2 linked regions of the Homo sapiens genome follow. The protein of the gene in region 2 interacts with the protein of the main gene of each other region in a pairwise test. Each region holds a gene or a part of one and is shown on either strand. Other genes may lie near its edges.

Region 1 (3,692 bases), on a different chromosome or scaffold from region 2:
TCTCCTGCCTCAGCCTCCCAAGTAGCTGGGATTACAGGCACACGCTACCATGCCTGGCTAATTTTTGTATTTTTAGTAGAGACAGGGTTTCACCACGTTGGCCAGGCTGATCTGAAACTCCTGACCTCAAGTGATCCACCTGCTTCAGCCTCCCAAAATGGTGGGCTTACAGGCATGAGCCACTATGCCTGGCCCTGACCTTTTGTTATGTATATGTTGACTAAGACATAAATCTGAATTCTGTGTATGACATCAAATACGAAAGTAAATTATTTACTTTATAAGCGTAGCCAGCCACACAGAATCTGCATCTCAGTACCCATGTGTTCTCTATGATGGTATTCAATTTTTCTTCCTAGTCAAAAGTGGAGGCGCTATGTAAAGAGACAATCAGCCTACTCTTTGACAGGGAAATAAAGTGATTCTTTTTTTCCTTTTTTAAATTGTCTGTGATAGAAATTGGATATTGAGAACTTAAGTTTTTAATCTTTGTCCTTTTTTATCAGGTTTCTGTTGCAGCAGACGGTGCCCAGAAAGAGGGTAAAAATAAGTCAGAAGATGCAAAGTCTGTTCATTTTGAATCCAGCACCTCAGAGTCCTCAGTGCTATCAAGTAGTAGTCCAGAGAGTACCTTGGTGAAACCAGAGCCGAATGGCATAACCATCCCTGGTATCTCTTCAGATGTGCCAGAGAGTGCCCACAAAACTACTGCCTCAGAGGCAAAGTCAGACACTGGGCAGCCTACCAAGGTTGGACGTTTTCAGGTGACAACTACAGCAAACAAAGTGGGTCGTTTCTCTGTATCAAAAACTGAGGACAAGATCACTGACACAAAGAAAGAAGGACCAGTGGCATCTCCTCCTTTTATGGATTTGGAACAAGCTGTTCTTCCTGCTGTGATACCAAAGAAAGAGAAGCCTGAACTGTCAGAGCCTTCACATCTAAATGGGCCGTCTTCTGACCCGGAGGCCGCTTTTTTAAGTAGGGATGTGGATGATGGTTCCGGTAGTCCACACTCGCCCCATCAGCTGAGCTCAAAGAGCCTTCCTAGCCAGAATCTAAGTCAAAGCCTTAGTAATTCATTTAACTCCTCTTACATGAGTAGCGACAATGAGTCAGATATCGAAGATGAAGACTTAAAGTTAGAGCTGCGACGACTACGAGATAAGTAAGTATATTTTCTCTTGTGAAAGAATGTCAGATAAGGTTTTCAGACCTAGATCCCAGGGCCAAGATTAATAATATTTTTCGCCACAATATGCTAATGTCTCATTTCTTTTAAAGAGACAGTGCCACAGAAGCCCCACCCCATACCTCCCCACCACACACACACACACACACACACACACACACACACACACACACACACACACACGATTCCCAACCACTGACTCACAGGCACAGGCAGCTTCTCTTGCACTCATACAGACCCATAGCATTTCTAGTTCTAGAACTTCTTCATTGTTACTATATTATTACTGTATTATTGTTACTGTATTGTATTATTATTTTTATTAATAGCATATTGTATCACTATTAACTGCTCTTTATTTATTAGTCCACTAAATGAATCTGGCACTGGGATGTATGATTATTTGGCACGTTTTGTTTGGCAGATTGGGTCAGAGTAGCAAATTCAGCTATTGTGTGCGTGGCCTCAAAAGTCAGGAAATGTTTTTCTCCTAAAACATTATCAACCATTTGTTGTTGGCTAGGAGCTTGTTGGAACATGGCTTGGGTAATGCAGGCCAGCAAGGTGAGTTGACAAACTAGAATCTCGTGGTAGTACATTTGGGGAAAAGGTTCATTAGTAACTACTACATACTTGAAAGCAGGTTTAGGAATATGCTGTTAATTCTTGTCTGAATGAAGAGGATTATGGTATTTTGAATTATGTTTGGTTATCTTTCACAGACATCTCAAAGAGATTCAGGACCTGCAGAGTCGCCAGAAGCATGAAATTGAATCTTTGTATACCAAACTGGGCAAGGTGCCCCCTGCTGTTATTATTCCCCCAGCTGCTCCCCTTTCAGGGAGAAGACGACGACCCACTAAAAGCAAAGGCAGCAAATCTAGTCGAAGCAGTTCCTTGGGGAATAAAAGCCCCCAGCTTTCAGGTAAAAAGCCCTGGACTAGGTCAGCCACAGCTGTCCTATCTTTTGTTTCTGTCTCCAGCTGTATGTGACCTGCTGAACATTTGTTGTTTTTGTTAAATTTCAAAGGAATTTGGCTCTCCTGATATTTTTGCTTCCTTGACTGCTGTACTTACATTTATTGTACCTCTTTTTGAGTCTATAGAAGTAGACTTAGTGAATACAATGGCTTATTCCATTGTAATCCATATTGCTATCTACTGGTAATCTTTATTTATAGTTATTCTTAAGGATAGACATTTAGCTTTGCCTGTTAACTCGTATAACTCACATTTAACCAAACTCTTGGGCAGTTGGAAGAAAATACATTATTCTCTGTTTAGTAAAACTTGGGTAGATTCTTTGTTTTAATGGATGACTTAGTCATAATTGCAACTTAGATGAATGTAATCGTCATATAGATATTTGTGTGTATGTCTAAGTGGTAACTTCTTGATTAAGGTTTTTATTTCATTTATATTGGGTTAAAGAACTTGCTAGTCATTGGTTAGGCACGGTGGCTCACGCCTGTAATCCCAGAACTTTGGGAGGCTGAGGCAGGCAGATCACGAGGTCAGGAGATCAAGACCATCCTGACTAACACGGTGAAACCCTGTCTCTACTAAAAATAAAAAAATTAGGTGGGCATGGTGGCAGGCGCCTATAGTCCCAGCTACTCAGGAGGCTGAGGCAGGAGAATGGCATGAGCCCGGGAGGCGGAGCTTGCAGTGAGCTGAGATTGCACCACTGCACTCCAGCCTCGGTGACAGAGCAAGACTCTGTCTCAAAAAAAAAAAAAAAAAGAAGAACTTGCTAGTCATTAAAATCAAAGAAATAGTTAAGTGATACTCTTTTGTAATGTAGTATATATATATATTTATTTATTTTAAGAGACAGGGCCTCACTCTGTTGCCCAGACTGGAGTGCAGTGGTGTGATCATAGCACACAACACAACAGCCTCAAACTCCTAGGCTCAGGTGGTCCTCCTACCTTAGCTTCCTGGGTAGCTGGGATTACAGGCACACACTACCATGCCCTGCTAACTTTGAATTTTTTTTTTGAGACAGAATCCCGCTCTGTTGCCCAGGCTGGAGTGCAGTGGCACGATCTCGGCTCACTGCATTCTCCGCCTCCCAGTTTCAAGTGATCCTCCTGCCTCAGCCCCGCATAGTAGCTGGGATTACAGGCACATGTCACCATGCCTGGCTAATTTTTGTATTTTTAGTAGAGATGGGGTTTCACTATGTTGGCCAGGCTGGTCTCAAACTCCTGGCTCAGGTGATCCACCCACCTTGGCCTCCCAAAGTGCTGGGATTACAGGCGTGAGCCACCGTGCCCGGCCCTGGACTATATTTTAATTGGGATAGATAGAGAGTTTCTAATCCTTTGGTGAAATTATGGTAGTGTTAACACAATTAGTTGAAAAGTAAAAGAAGGTTAAAATATGTTAAAAAGCAGTTGCAAACTTCTTAGCAGTTCCATTCTCTGGAAAGGTTCACAGATATCCAAATGTAGCACATTAGGGCCAGTTCATGCAGCCCATTAGTAGAGATGTGATT
Region 2 (3,500 bases):
CTTTGGGAGGCTGAGGCAGGCGGATCACATGAGATCAGGAGTTCGAGACCAGCCTGGCCAACATAGTGAAACCCCATCTCTACTAAAAATACAAAAATTAGCTGGACATGGTGGTGCATGCCTGTAATCCCAGCTACTTGGGAGGCTGAGGCAGGAGAATCACTTGAACCCGGGAGGCAGAGGTTGCAGTGAGCCAAGATCGCACCACTGCACTCCAGCCTGGGCAAGAAGAGCGAAAACTCCATGTCGGAAGAAAAAAAGGTGGGGGGGGGTGGTGGCTGATGATGATGAAAATGACAGTAACAATGATATAAGAAAACTCTACTTAGGATTACTAAGAAGATCAAATCAAATGAAAATGTACAGCCAGGCGCGGTGGCTCATGCCTGTAACCCCAGCACTTTGGGAGGCCGAGGTGGGTGGATCACAAGGTCAGGAGATCGAGACCATCCTGGCTAACACGGTGAAACCCCGTCTCTACTAAAAATACAAAAAAATTAGCCGGGCGTGGTGGCACACGCCTGTAGTTCCAGCTACTCGGGAGGATGAGGCAGGAGAATGGAGTGAACCTGGGAGGCAGGGCTTGCAGTAAGCCGAGATTGCACCACTGCACTCCAGCCTGGGTGACACAGTGAGACTCCGTCTCAAAAAAAAAAAAAAAAAGAAAATGTATGTCAAATGTTGTAAAATGCAATACAAATATTGGTTGATATTGGTGGGAAAAGCCAAAGAGAAAAAAAGTATACAGTGCTATACAAAAGCATTATTTTTAATGAGCATTATTTGAAATAGCACATGTATTTCAAGAACCCTACCGAAAAAATCTTTATTCTGCCCATAGTATATTCACGTAGACATTAACTTCTCCAGTAGCATTTTTCACTAACTCCAACACTGGACTATTTCGTAACTGACCATATAACCACAAAAACCCCAACCATTAAACCCTTGATTAGTAACTCCCAGGGCCTGTTAATGGATTTTGAACTTGAGAGTTGGCAGTCAAATGGCCCAGGATGCCAGCTGCTCAGTTATTAGACATTTAGGGAAGAAGCAATGAGGAGATGACAGAGAAAGAGAGTTCCACTGTGGGTCACTGGAGGGGAGGGGTGGGGATGTGGGTCAGTGCCAGGTGAGTGATGTTGACAGTGGCTGGAGTCACAGTGGGGGGTAGGTGCCAGCAAGAAGGAATGAGGATGTGTTCACACTGGGATCTGGGCACAGGTGCCAAATCCTCCCCAAGAGGCAAATGAGGGTGTGCTGTGCAAAGGGCGTCTGCCTGGCAAGGGGGCAGCTAGCTTTCAATCCTGGCTCAGCAAGGTTAAGTAGGCAGGTTGCTTAACCTCCCTGAATCTAGACTTCCTCACCTCTAAAATGGGAACAATAATCTTTATTTCCTGGGACAACCACATGGATCAAATGAGACCTTCCAGGGACATGACATGTGCTTTGACAGAGAACACATAAAATGCTTTGTACAAGTTAAGATCTGAGCCTCTGCGCCTGTCCCCCTCTCCACGCGGGCCTGCACTCCCCGCCACTTCTGTAAAGACTGCCTACTCACTCCAACGCTCCTCCACTTTGCCGCACTTCAGCACTGGCCCAGACTCACGTTTCCACCTTTCCAAATCATTCTCAGAAATGTTTTATCCATGTACCCTCCCACTCAGCCAACTAAACATCTACCCACTTGCCAAGCATTCCCTGAACACCTACCACATGCCAGGCCCCATGCCAGGCACTAGGGACAAGAGAGACACCTTGTCCCTGTCCCCAAGGAACCGGTGGTATGGAGGAGGGAAGAAAACACGCTGGTGCTGCCATAGTGTGAGGATGGCCCCACACAATGCTCTGGTGACAGTGTGAGCCAGCAGAGCCAGGAGCAGGAGGAAATACCCTCAACACAGGGTGTTGGCTGAAGTGGAGCAGAGACTCTGGCGAGGGGTCCAGGTATGCTGCAGTTAGAAGGAGGGGTACATGTCTGACAGACATAGTGAGGAGGGAGAAAAGAGGCTGGACAATTCTGAACAGACTCTCAGGAGTTGGGAGCTACAAGATACTGAAAGGACGGGCTGCTGAGAAGGCAGGTTAAGAGCCAATGCTCAGGTTTCTACCTTGGGAAACCAGGGAGATGATGCTGTCTATTTACTGCTAAGAGAAAAGGAGAAGGTGAGGTAGTTTGGGGTGGATTATATCTGAGCATCCTGGGTTTGTGGATCTGAAGACTATCATGTAGAGATGCCCAGAGGGGAGCTGGAGCTCACAATCCTTCAGAAAGAAAGCCACACTCTGGAGCTGGACAGTCCTTTCAGTGAGTCAAGGCCCCAATATCCCAGTTATGCTCCAAGGCCTAAGAAAGACCAAGACCATCTTCCCATTCAACTTCATCTCCTCAGGGCAGAGCACTGTGCCTCCTCCCTCACTTCTTGTCCCCTACCCAGCACAAGACTCTGGCTCCACAGGAAAGGCACCCACTGGGCTCCTCTCCCTGACCGTACAAGAAGCTCAAGCAATGGAAACTTCTGTTCATACCGACATGTAGGACCTTGTGCCCACGAAGGAGTTGGCCATGGAGTCGATGAGCTGCCCGCTGACCCCAAAGTCACAGAGCTTGATCTCCCCACGGGAGTTGACTAGGATGTTGGAGGGCTTGACATCTGCAGGGAAGAGAAAATAGAAAAGGAGGGAACTGACACAGGTAGATTGGGGAAGAGAAGGATCAGCATTCCACACAGACCAGCCCTGACCACGAGTCCCAGGACCACACCCCCGTCCGCCATCAGAGGCAGCCCTTGGCTTGCAAACACTGTACACCAAGGCCCTTTGTTCTGAGTTCAAGAAGCAACTGTCAGGAGATGAAATGAGCAGCTGCTGTAGAAGTAGAACAGAAAGACAGTCGATTTCCACTCTCTAAGAATGCAGACTTGGCCAGATGATCCACAGGAAGGAGTCCGTTATCATGAACAGTCAGGATTTCAAAGTCTGTTGCTTCAACCACCCCTACTGGTAAGATATAGTATCTATGGCTGGATCATGAAGGAGGCAGAAAAAAACAAGTAATAAGACCTATCTGCTTGCTGAGGCTACACAGGCTAGAAGGGGACAGGGTTTGGCGGGAATTCCCATTCTAGACTTCTGCACCAGGCATGGAGCATGTGGGTCTTTTTCTTACAAATATGTGTGGCAGGGTGGGAGCTGAGTCATGATTCCATTCCATTCCACTGGAGTCACTCACCTAACAGCCTACACAGGTACATCTACCCTGCCAGTCAAGGGGAACCCCTTGCTACCTGGAGCTGGAATGTGAGAGGCCTTAAAGCTGCTCCTCAGAGTCAAAACGATGCCCCCATCCCCCTTCCTTGCACTCTTATTATCACCCCATCCCACCCATCCGGTCACTGTCACAAATACCAGTACATTGGCCCTTAGTTTGCAGAGACCTAAATTTCCAAACATTTTTTCTTCCGCTGTATCCTCTGATTCATACAACTGTCCTGTAA

Evidence for each region. The genes of interacting proteins can lie anywhere in the genome.
Region 1: the proteins of MAP2K1 (region 2) and WNK1 interact in a two-hybrid assay, tested with the Homo sapiens proteins (one large-scale study listed by BioGRID and IntAct).

The regions. Positions count from the first base shown.
Region 1 is NC_000012.12:895,565-899,256, forward strand, and holds part of WNK1 (serine/threonine-protein kinase WNK1), read left to right. Parts: intron 1-506; coding exon 507-1,168; intron 1,169-1,914; coding exon 1,915-2,117; intron 2,118-3,692. UniProt on the Homo sapiens protein: Serine/threonine-protein kinase component of the WNK1-SPAK/OSR1 kinase cascade, which acts as a key regulator of blood pressure and regulatory volume increase by promoting ion influx.
Region 2 is NC_000015.10:66,480,912-66,484,411, reverse strand, and holds part of MAP2K1 (dual specificity mitogen-activated protein kinase kinase 1), read right to left. Parts: intron 2,658-3,500; coding exon 2,533-2,657; intron 1-2,532. UniProt on the Homo sapiens protein: Dual specificity protein kinase which acts as an essential component of the MAP kinase signal transduction pathway.